3 linked regions of the Homo sapiens genome follow. The protein of the gene in region 1 interacts with the protein of each later gene in a biochemical or structural test. Each region holds a gene or a part of one and is shown in the gene's direction. Other genes may lie near its edges. The genes, in order: TCERG1, SF3A3 and DIAPH1.

The links.
Region 2: the proteins of TCERG1 (region 1) and SF3A3 form a complex in vitro, tested with the Homo sapiens proteins (one study listed by BioGRID).
Region 3: the proteins of TCERG1 (region 1) and DIAPH1 form a complex in vitro, tested with the Homo sapiens proteins (one study listed by BioGRID).

The regions. Positions count from the first base shown.
Region 1 is NC_000005.10:146,450,319-146,454,068, forward strand, and holds part of TCERG1 (transcription elongation regulator 1), read left to right. Parts: intron 1-3,750. UniProt on the Homo sapiens protein: Transcription factor that binds RNA polymerase II and inhibits the elongation of transcripts from target promoters. Regulates transcription elongation in a TATA box-dependent manner.
Region 2 is NC_000001.11:37,983,310-37,987,059, reverse strand, and holds part of SF3A3 (splicing factor 3A subunit 3), read left to right. Parts: intron 1-2,280; coding exon 2,281-2,353; intron 2,354-2,799; coding exon 2,800-2,891; intron 2,892-3,750. UniProt on the Homo sapiens protein: Component of the 17S U2 SnRNP complex of the spliceosome, a large ribonucleoprotein complex that removes introns from transcribed pre-mRNAs.
Region 3 is NC_000005.10:141,528,292-141,532,041, reverse strand, and holds part of DIAPH1 (protein diaphanous homolog 1), read left to right. Parts: intron 1-2,344; coding exon 2,345-2,439; intron 2,440-2,768; coding exon 2,769-2,870; intron 2,871-3,100; coding exon 3,101-3,340; intron 3,341-3,459; coding exon 3,460-3,589; intron 3,590-3,750. UniProt on the Homo sapiens protein: Actin nucleation and elongation factor required for the assembly of F-actin structures, such as actin cables and stress fibers. Binds to the barbed end of the actin filament and slows down actin polymerization and depolymerization.

The DNA.
Region 1 (3,750 bases):
CTGGGGAAGAACATGCTCGGCAAAGAGAACAGGTGCAGAGGCTTCAAAGTAATAAACTTGAAATATTTAAAGGAAAAGACTAGAATTTGTGGAAAGGTTAATGTGGGCCAGGTTATACAGGGCCTGATATAATAATTATAGTAATAATAGCTAACATTACTAATATTAATATTATTTAACACTTACCAGTACTATTACTGTCCTAATGTTACAGAAACAGTAATGATAGCTAATAACTTAGATAGCACTTACATACTAAGCACTATTCCAAGTACTTTATTAGCTCATTTAATCCTCATTGCAGGTTCTGGTGAGGTTGTTGTGATGAAGCAGTATAATATAAAGAGCCCAGCCCATGTTCTGTGCGTAATTAACATCAGAAAATGGCAACTTCAGGCTATTCAAAAAAGGAAATTATGTGAATTTTGTCACCATTTTAGTGGCAGACTTTTGAAAACCATAACAAATTAATAATGAAATGCCTTTTACAGATAAACACTGCTAGGTTTTGTGGGGGAATGAAAGTAATGATAGTTGAAGTAGTTTACTGTGTACCAGCTACCACCCTAAATGTTTCACCGGGATTATCTCATTGAACAGTGATATCAGATACCTTTTCTGTTCCTTACTCATTCACATCTGAGGAAACTCAAGGCTCAGAAATTATGTAACTAGCCTGACAACAAAAGACGGAGTCCTAACAGGGCTTTTTTATGGTTCTGGATCTTAAATGCTTAACTTCAAGCTGTAACCAGGAAGTATGAAATTGTACAGAAATGAATACTGTAGACTTTTTGAAAAAAGGAGAGGCAGATGGAAAGAAAATCTAAGAGTAGGGTACATTATTAACTCAAGCCTGAAACAGAGTGTCTTTCCTTGGTGATTATCTTTTTTTTGCCCTAAAAGTTTGGACATTCCTTCAGTAACAGTGGCCTGTGTCTTTTGGGGATGCATATAATTTGAAAAAGACCTTCTGATTATTTTGATGCGATCCATATTCCTTTTTTTTTTTTTTTTCTTTTAAGACAATGTCTTGCTCTGTCTCCCAGGCTGAAGTGCAGTGGTGTGATCTTGGCTTACTGCAGCCTCCACCTGTCAGGTTCCTCCTGTTCTCCTGCCTCAGCCTCTTGAGTAGCTGGGATTACAGGGAAGCACCACCACACCCGGCTAATTTCTGTATTTTTAGTAGAGTGGGGGTTTCACTATGTTGGCCAGGATGGTCTCGAATTTCTGACCTCAGGTGATCCACCTGCCTTGGCTTCCCAAAGTGCTAGGATTACAGGCGTGAGCCACCGGGGGGCGTCCGGCCCATATTCCTTTTTAACTCATATTTTCTAACCTTTGGATTGTAGGATCATTTGCAAATTTGATTAAATATACTTGGTGTAGTAGTTCTGGACTTGTTTACAGTCCTGGTTATACCAGGACTGTAAACAAGTCCAGAAGGCAAATTAGTTTTTTTTTTTTTTAATTTTTTAATTTTTTTGAGACTTGAGTCTCGCTCTCTTGCCCAGGCTGGAATGCGGTGGTGCAATATCGGCTCACTGCAACCTCTGCCTCCTGGGTTTGAGTGATTGTCATGCCTCAACCTCTCAAGTAGCTGGGGCTACAGGCATGCACCACCATGCTTGGCTGATTTTTGTATTTTTAATAGACTCAGGGTTTTGCTATGTTGGCCAGGCTGGTCTCGAACTCCTGGCTTCAAGTGATCTGCCCACCTCTGCCTCCCAAAGTGCTGAGATTACAGGCATGAGCCACTGCTCCTGGCCTAAATTGGTTCTTTATTAGGATTTTTTTGGTGTGTGTCAGAATTGAACGATGATGTGGTAAATTTAGAGAAAGTTCAAAGGGTAATCTATAAGCAGAGGGTTGAAAAATGTCAGAAAGTTGAAAGAGCCTGGTAACGAGAGACTATAAGAATGATTATTTTCAAATATATAAAGAATATAATTGTTAATTCCTCTCTTGAGGACAGAAATGTAGGTTTTTTATGTATAATGTAGATGTATAGTAGCTACTGGGAATACCATGATAGGTACTCAGTAAATGGGTGGAATTGTAAAAATAATTTTTTTAAGATCCTGCATACGCTACTTGTAAGGTAGTTTGGGTACTGTATCACCTAGGTATTCAGTGGTTCATGCAACAAATACTAATACTAATATTTATTGAGCCCTACTATGTACAGATCTATGTGCTAGGGATACAAGAGTGAACACAATTCCTACTCTGAAGGAGCATTTGCCTGTGTTTGAATCCTCTCTTTATTTTCTTTATTTATTTATTATTGAGACAGAGTTTTGCTCTATTGCCCAGGCTGGAGTGCAGTGGCACAATCTCGGCTCACTGCAACCTCCACTTCCCAGGCTCAAGCAATTCTTCTGCTTCCGCCTCCCAAGTAGCTGAGATTACAGGCGTGCACCACCATGCCCGGCTAATTTTTTTGTATTTTTAGTAGAGATGGGGTTTCACCATGTTGTCCAGGTTGATGTTGAACTCCTGACTTCAAATGATCTGCCTGCCTTGGCCACCAAAGTGCTGGGATTACAGGCGCGAGCCACCGTGGGCCACCTGAATCCTGGCTTTAGTACTGAACCAGTTGTGTGGCCTTGGACAAGTGACTTCTTTGCTTTAGTTCTTTATCTATAAACTGAGATTAATAGTATCCATCTCATTGGGTTGTTTTGATGATTAAAAGACTTAATTTTTGAAAAGAGCTTAGAGCAAGCACTGCCTGGCTCATAGTAAGCACTTTTAGGAGTTAATAATTCTCTTTACAAAAGCACTTGGGGGAAGAGATAGATAATACTATCTCATGTGATATTACTTATTTGCTTAAATGCTGTGGAGAAAATACATTAGGGTGTTGAGAGTGAGGGGTGGTGGGGCAGTGTGCCCTACAGGGAAAGGCTTTCCCTTTAGGTAGAGACTACTAATGATCTGCCAAGTGACCCCCCTGCCCCCTTTAAAAACTTTGGAAGTAATTTCAAATTTACAAAATGTCGCAAAAATAAAGCTAGGGTGTTATTCAATGTTAATATTTTACCTCTTCTGCTTTACTATTTGCGTGCACACGTGCATCCTCTTTGTTATTCTGAACTGTGAGGGTAAGGTATACCTATGGCTTTTTACCCTTCAATACTTCAGTATTTTCTAAGAATAGAGATATTATTTTACTTAACTACAGCCTAATTATCAACTTCATAAATTTGTAATGATATAATACTTTAATCTGTTGTGCATATTCCAGTGTTGTCAGTTGATCTGGCAATGCCCTGTATGGCATTTCCTCCTGTTAGTACAGAATCCAATCTAGAGTTAAAATTGTGTTGTTATTGGCCGAGCGTGGTGGCTCACGCATGTAATCCCAGTACTTTGGGAGGCTGAGGTGTGCAGATCGCCTGAGGTCAGGAGTTCAAGACCAGCCTTGCCAACATGGCAAAACCCTGTCTCTAAAAAAAAAAAAAAAAATTGTGTTGTTATGACTCTTTAACCTTTTTTAATCTGGAGCATTTCCACAACATTTCTTTGTCTTTTATGGATAACATTGACATATCTGAAGAATACACATCCCCCTTTTAATAGAACATTCCTTCCGGCCAGGCGCTGTGGCTCATGCCTATAATCCTAGCACTTTGGGAGGCCGAGGAGGGCAGATCATGCGGTCAGGAGATCAAGACCATTGCCAACATGGTGAAACCCCATCTCTACTCAAATACAAAAAAAAAAAAAAAAAAAAAAAATTAGCCG
Region 2 (3,750 bases), on another chromosome or scaffold:
TCCCAGCCAGTGACTGAGCACAGTATGGGTACTAGGGCCCAGCAATTTGGTCCACTCTGAGACTCCTCTGATGAATAATCTTTGCTCCATGGCTCCCCGTTGGGTTGGTCAAGATTTTGTCCAATCTGCATTGTGGTCTAGGCTATCCTGTCCTAATCCTACTTTCTCTTCCTTTTTATCTTTCACAGAAATTACTCTCCCCAATAAATTGTGTTCCTAACTCTGTCTTTTTTTTTTTTTTTTTTTTTGAGATGGAGTCTCGCTCTGTTGCCCAGGCTGGAGTGCAGTGGCATGATCTCGGCTCACTGCAAGCTCCACCTCCCGAGTTCATGCCATTCTCCTTCCTCAGCCTCCTGAGTAGCTGGGACTACAGGTGCCTGCCACCACGCCTGGCTAATTTTATGTATTTTTTAGTTGAGACAGGGTTTCACCATGTTAGCCAGGATAGTCTCTATCTCCTGACCTTGTGATCCGCCCACCTCGGCCTCCCAAAGTGCTGGGATTACAGGCATGAGCCACCGCGCCCGGCCCTCATATGCCCTGGAGCTCACTTATAATAAGGTAAAGAGAAAAAGGGCCTGGGAAGGCTTCCATCAGAAAGGTCACATGACCACTCCAGGTGGTGTTGCCTTACTGAAGTTAAGCAAAAGAGAGTTTCAGAAAGGCAGTCATGGTGTCAACTGTTATTGATTTATATCTGCCAGGATTGCTGCTTCATTAAAGTAGTATGAATGGAAATCTGGTCACAAGGTAAAGATGGGTAATGGGGAAGTAGAAGTATGGAGTATGGAACATGCATTTGAAAGGCTGGTAGCCAGGTGCAGTGACTCACGCCTGTAATCCCAGCACTTTGGGAGGCCGAGGCGGGTCGATCATCTGAGGTCAGGAGTTGGAGACCAGCCTGGCCAAAATGGTGAAACCTCTCTCTACTAAAAACACAAAAATTAGCCGGGCATGGTGGTGCACGCCTGTGATCCCAGCTTCTCATGAGGCTGAGACAGGAGAATCGCTTGAACCCAGGACATGGAGGTTGCAGTGAGCTGAGATCACGCCACTGCACTCCAGCCTGGGCAACAGAGCAAGACTCCGTCAAAAAAAAAAAAAAAAAAAGTCTGGTAGGAAAAAGAAGGGGAGAAACAGGAGGGTATTGGGGAAGACAGAGAAGCATACTTATTTGAAGGAGCACAGGGAAAAAGGAAGAGACTAAAAACAGCAAAAAATAGAGGCTGTTTATTGCAATACATAGCGCGGAGGTAAATGAAGGGACCCTCACACACATAGCCCCCTTGGAGGATAGAGAATGAGGTCTTCTGCTAACCAAGGGAGAATAAATGAATACCATTCTGATGTGTTAACCTTATTCCAGCCATGGTCAAAAGGTAATGAGGAATAAATGCTTAAATAACTGATTAGAAGGATGCCCAAGATATACTAAATGTCAGACGCAAGTCTTTTATGTTAAAAAAACAAAAACAAAAACCTATGCAGGCATGAATGTACTTGTACAAATACATATATTTAAATACATAGAGCACTGTTTTCCAAACTTTGTGCATATTTGAGCCACCTGGGGATCTTTAAAAAGTACTGATACCTGCCCTCCTTTGATTTAATTGGTATCAGGTGCATCAGGATTTAAAAAAAAAACTCCCCCAGGTGATTCTAATGTGCAGCAAAGTTTGGGAACCACTGGCATAGCAAAAGCTCTGTTAACAGTGGTCACCTGTTCTCAGGAGAATTAATAAAGGTGGACTTTTGAGTTTTTGTGAGCATGTGTTACTTTAGTGGGTTTTACTCAAACAGTACAAAAAAGCGGGGAAAAACAAGGTAATTGGAGAACAGTAGTAGATTTCCTAGTGAAAAATCAAGGCCAAATAAATCATCAGAAGTCCAACTTTCTGTGTATTTCATTTCTGTGATCTTGCAACTTTTACATTGAAAAATCCGCCTGCGGTCAGGCACAGTGGCTCATGCCTGTAATCCCAGCACTTTGGGAGGCCAAGGTGGGCAGATCACTTGAGCTTAGGAGTTTGAGACCAGCCTGGGCAACATGGCAAAACCCTGTCTCTACTAAAAATACAAGAATTAGCCAAGCGTGGTGGTGTGTGCCTATAATCCCAGCTACTCGGGTGGCCGAGGCAGGACAATCGCTTGAACCCGGGAGGTAGAGGTTGCAGTGAGCCAAGATTGTGCCAGTGCACTCCAGCCTGGGCCACAGAGTGAGAATCCATCTCAAAAGCAAAAAGAAAAATCCACCTGAGCTTTTACTTTTCCCCTCAGATCTGTGTGCCAATGTCAGTGGAATTTGAGGAACTCCTGAAGGCTCGAGAGAATCCAAGTGAAGAGGCACAAAGTAAGTAGGGGTGAAAATTTCATTCAGCACCAGCAAAAATACAGGTTAATGACAGCTCAGATTTGCAGCCATGGCCTCAGAGATATTTATAGCCAGGATTTCTTGCTGGTTTTGTCTTTGCTGGTTTCTGGGCTAGAGTGACATCCTAAGTTGGTCTTGGGCAAAATGTTCATTTTGTTCTCTCCTACCTCAAATTTACTGGCTTGGAAAGCCAAGGATTGTTCACTTTAGTTCACAATACTAAAATGAGTCAGTCCTTGTTACCTTGTAAGAGAAAACTCACTTTTGATCTCACTTAACTTATTGGAGGTTATATTGTGAGCAAAGGGAAGACATTTGGGTGAAGTGCTGCCTCAGGAAACTAGGAACACACAGTCCATTTGAAAAGGTAAGTCCAAGAGAGTGGTCTGTAGAAACTGAATCATTGATGTATCTGATTCCCTCAGACTTGGTGGAGTTCACAGATGAAGAGGGATATGGTCGTTATCTCGATCTCCATGACTGTTACCTCAAGTACATTAACCTGAAGGCATCTGAGGTAAGGCCTGGGAAAGGGCAGAGAGGTTCTGATTCTCGAAGTGAGTCAGGACAGTAGGCTGGAACTAGCAGACATGAAGCCATTGTAAAGTGTCTTCCTTGTGTTTTAAAACTCTTATGTAAATATTAAAGAGGTGATATGCTCTCTTGGAATGAAATACTATTCAAAATGAAAGTTTTCTACAGTGAAAACAAGAAGCATATTTATTTATTAATACTTTTTTTTTTATTTTGAGATGAGGTCTTACCATGTTGCCCAGTCTGGAGTGCAGTGGTATGATCTTTGCTCACTGCAACCTCGACTTCTGGGCTCAAGTGATCTCCTGCCTTAGCCTTCTGAGTATTTGAGGCTACAGGTGCATACCACCACCACACTTGGCTAATTTTTGTCTTTTTTTGTAAAGATGGGGTCTTGCAGTGTTGCCCAGGCTGGTCACAAACTCCTGACCTCAAATGATCCTCCTGTCTCGGCCTCCCACAGTGTTGGGATACAGGCATGAGCCATTGTACCCAGTCCATTATCAATACAGCAAGCATATTTTACCTTTGCCAAAATAAATCTTTTTTTTTTTTTTTTTTTTTTGAGACAGGGTCTCACTTTGTCACCCAGGCTGGAGTGCAGTGGCGCGATCTTGGCTCACTGTAGCCTAGACCTCTTGGACTCAAGTGATGGATCCCGCCTCAGCCCCACCAAGTACTTGGGACTACAGGCGTGTGCCACCATGCCCAGCTAATTTTTTGTATTTTGTGTAGAGATGGGGTTTTGCCATGTTGCCAAGGCTGGTCTTAAACTCCTGAGCTCAAGCAATCCGTCTGTCTTGGCCTCACAAAGTGTTGGGATTATAGACGGAAGCCACTGC
Region 3 (3,750 bases), 4.9 Mb from region 1:
TGAGTGAGATTATCCTGTGTAATTTTTAGGAAGGCTGCTTTGGCAGTGATTTTGAGGCTGGATTGCTTTTTATCCTGTGTAATTTTTAGGAAGGCTGCTTTGGCAGTGATTTTGAGGCTGGATTGCTAAGGTAAGGGGAGACTATAGGCAGAGATGAGTTATGTCATTGTTTTAAACTAGGTGAGATGTGATCAGGGCCTGAAACTAAGGTGATGAGAATAAGAGAGGGAGAGGATATTAAGATGGTAGAATTAGGCTAGGTGCAGTGGCTCATGGCTGTAATCCCAGCACTTTGGGAGGCTGAGGCAGGTGGATCACTGGAGGTCAGGAGTTCGAGACGAGCCTGGTCAACATGGCAAAATGCTGTCTCTACTAAAAATAGAAAAATTAGCTGGGCATGGTGGAGCACGCCTATAATCCCAGCTACTCATGGGGCTGAGGCAGGAGAATCGCTTGAACCCGGGAAGCGGAGGTTGCAGTGAGCCAACACCATGCCGTTGCACACCAGCCTGGGTGACAGAGTGAGACTCATCTCAAGCAATAAATAAATTAAAATAAAAAACTAGCCAGATGTGGTGCCGCATGCCTATAGTCCCAGCCACTTGGGAGACTGAGGTGGGTGGAGGATTGCTTGAGGCTGGGAGGTCCAGGCTGCCATGAGCTATGACTGCACTGCTGCACTCTAGCTTGGGCAACAGAGTGAGATGCTGTCTCAAAAAAAAAAAAGAGAGAGAGAGAGAGAAGGTAAAATTAATGGAATTTAGTGATTGACTTGGGATAAAGGAGAAGGTGCTTTGAGGTTTAGGTCACTCTGCGGAAAGTGGTACCATTTACTGAAATAGGAAAATTCAGCAGGAACAGATTGTCTTTTCGGGGAGGTGGATGTGAGAGGTAGCAGGTTGGTGTCTTACTTAAAGTATATTCTCTAAGTGGCTGCCATCTTTTCATTGGCTTTGTGGTTATGGAATAAATCAGAGTCGTGGAAGTGAGAGAGAATAGGCTAGTTTAGATTGCTATAAAGTGAAAGAAAGAGAAACTGGTAATTTAGAGAGGAACATTGAGTAAGATTTAAAAAACTTGATTATGTATATATGATGAAGGGAAAGGTCTGTGGGGCTGCCTCTTCTGTTGACACATGAGGAAAGGATGAGTACATGGGAGTATATATACTTAGACGTAAATATATGAACACATGCCTCCTATAAGCTTACGAAAATGTTGGTATAGTTTTCTTCTAGGCGATTCCAAAAGGCTTATCTGAGTCTTTTCTAGTCTGGCTCTAACCAAGAGCCCTAGTGCTTTATTTTTAAGTAGGATAAGAGAAAGCTGAGCAAGTAATTTGACCAGTGGCTTTGATTTTTCTCAGTGAAGAGGAGCAGGGTCTTCCTGGAACAAATGGGGAAGTGGTGGGGCAGTGGGGAAAGTGGGAATATGTTGGAGGACCTGCCAAGAAGGGTGGGAGAAAGTGGAATTGGGACACACAAAGAGAATTGCTAACAGCGCGGAGGCCCCAGTTATCATTGGTGCTACTGCAAATTCATAGACTCCAGTCCGCATCAGCCTAGGTGTCAGAGTAGAGAAATGAAATGGCTAGACTGACCAGGGACCCAGAAGGAGAAGGAAGCAAAAGAAAGGTAATAGTAGGAGTAATAATACTAATGGGAGTCATAGTAGAGAGCAAATGAACTGATGGTTTAGAGGCTCCTAATGAAATAGGAAAGGCAGAGTGGAACTGATATATCAGTGAAAACAGAATGGTCAGGAGACTGGAAAGAGAGGTCCTGATAAGGCTGAAGAGTCAAGTGAGAGATTAGAAAGGGAGAGTTGAAAAAACAGGATGTATTTGTTAGGGAATAGGATATGGTGGTTTAAGGTCAAGGCAGCTTTGAGGATCACGTCCTGAGAGTGGGGAACTAAAGTAGAGTGGGGTGAAAGTCTTTGACGTATATATACTTTTTTGAGACGGGTCTCGCTCTGTTGCTCAGGCTGGAGTGCAGTGGTGCGGTCACAGCTCACTGCAACCTTGACCTCCTGGGCTCAGGTGATCCTCCCACCTCAGCCTGCCGAGCAGCTGGGACTACAGGTGCACACCACCACGCCTGGCTAGTTTTTGTATTTTTTGTGGAGATGAGGTTTCCCCATGTTGCCTAGGCTGGTCTCAAACTCTGGGGCTCAAGCGATCCGCCCACCTTGGCCTCCCGAAGTGCTGGGATTACAGGCATGAGCCACTGTGCCTGGCCTAAAAGAGCCCTGTTAGGAAGATTATCCAGCATAGGTTTGCAGGATGGGTTGGAAGCGGGAACAGACCGAGAAGAACATGTCTTAATATCTCATTTTCTGGCAGCAATCTTTTTGGGTTCCTTCCGCATGCCCTATCAAGAGATTAAGAATGTCATCCTGGAGGTGAATGAGGCTGTTCTGACTGAGTCTATGATCCAGGTAAGGAGTAAGGTGGTTCTGCTGGAGCAGGCTCTTCTGTGTCGCTGGGCACTGGCCTCATCTCTGTGTAGATGAAGAGGATCCTCCTCCAGCATTGCTGACTTATGAATGCTGGCTTTGAGAAACTGCCTTTTCTCTGGTGGTCAGATTACTTCTGGTATATTTTGCAAAAGTACCCCCATCTCAGTAGCTGCCTCTCTTCTCCCACCATATGTTTCTTTCTGTATGGTCCTTGAGCAGAGTGTGGGACTGACAACAGAGTAAAAGTTGTTTAGGCTTGAGTTGTTAGCGAATTCCCCTCCAGCTGAGATGTCTCTTCTGTCTTTCAGAACCTCATTAAGCAAATGCCAGAGCCAGAGCAGTTAAAAATGCTTTCTGAACTGAAGGATGAATATGATGACCTGGCTGAGTCAGAGCAGTTTGGCGTGGTGGTGAGTGAGGCCTGTGGCAGTAAGCGGTTTTCCACCTCCTGTATTCCCCTCCCCTCTAGAGAGCAGCCTGGGCATATGCTCCTTGCCGCTTGTCTGTTTTTGAACCTGTCTTAATCTCTCTCTTCTCCCTGCTCTGGAGCTGTGATCCTCCCATAGGAGGCTCAAGCGTGTATCTTTTTCTGACTTCCCCCTCTTTTGACTGTAATGGAACTGCTTGTGTTCTTTACTAGATGGGCACTGTGCCCCGACTGCGGCCTCGCCTCAATGCCATTCTCTTCAAGCTACAATTCAGCGAGCAAGTGGAGAATATCAAGCCAGAGATTGTGTCTGTCACTGCTGCATGTGAGGAGTTACGTAAGAGTGAGAGCTTTTCCAATCTCCTAGAGATTACCTTGCTTGTTGGAAATTACATGAATGCTGGCTCCAGAAATGCTGGTGCTTTTGGCTTCAATATCAGCTTCCTCTGTAAGGTGAGCCAAAGAGGTAGGGCAGGACAACACAAGGAAGGCTGTAGCCTCTATGAGTTCAGTGTTGGCAGGAGGCCATCTTGGACATGTCAGGATTTAACAGTTTCTCCTCTTTCTCTAAGCTTCGAGACACCAAGTCCACAGATCAGAAGATGACGTTGTTACACTTCTTGGCTGAGTTGTGTGAGAATGACTATCCCGATGTCCTCAAGTTTCCAGACGAGCTTGCCCATGTGGAGAAAGCCAGCCGAGGTGGGGCAGTTTGGAATGAAGCTAGAGCCCAAAAGTCTCTGCATGGGGAGGGAAATAAGACACAGTCTAGATGTGAGAGCATTTTCAGTTCAGACTATTTCAAGTGGAAATGAGATAGGATTTAGGCATGGTGCCTAAGTCACAAGGGCAGAGCGTATGGC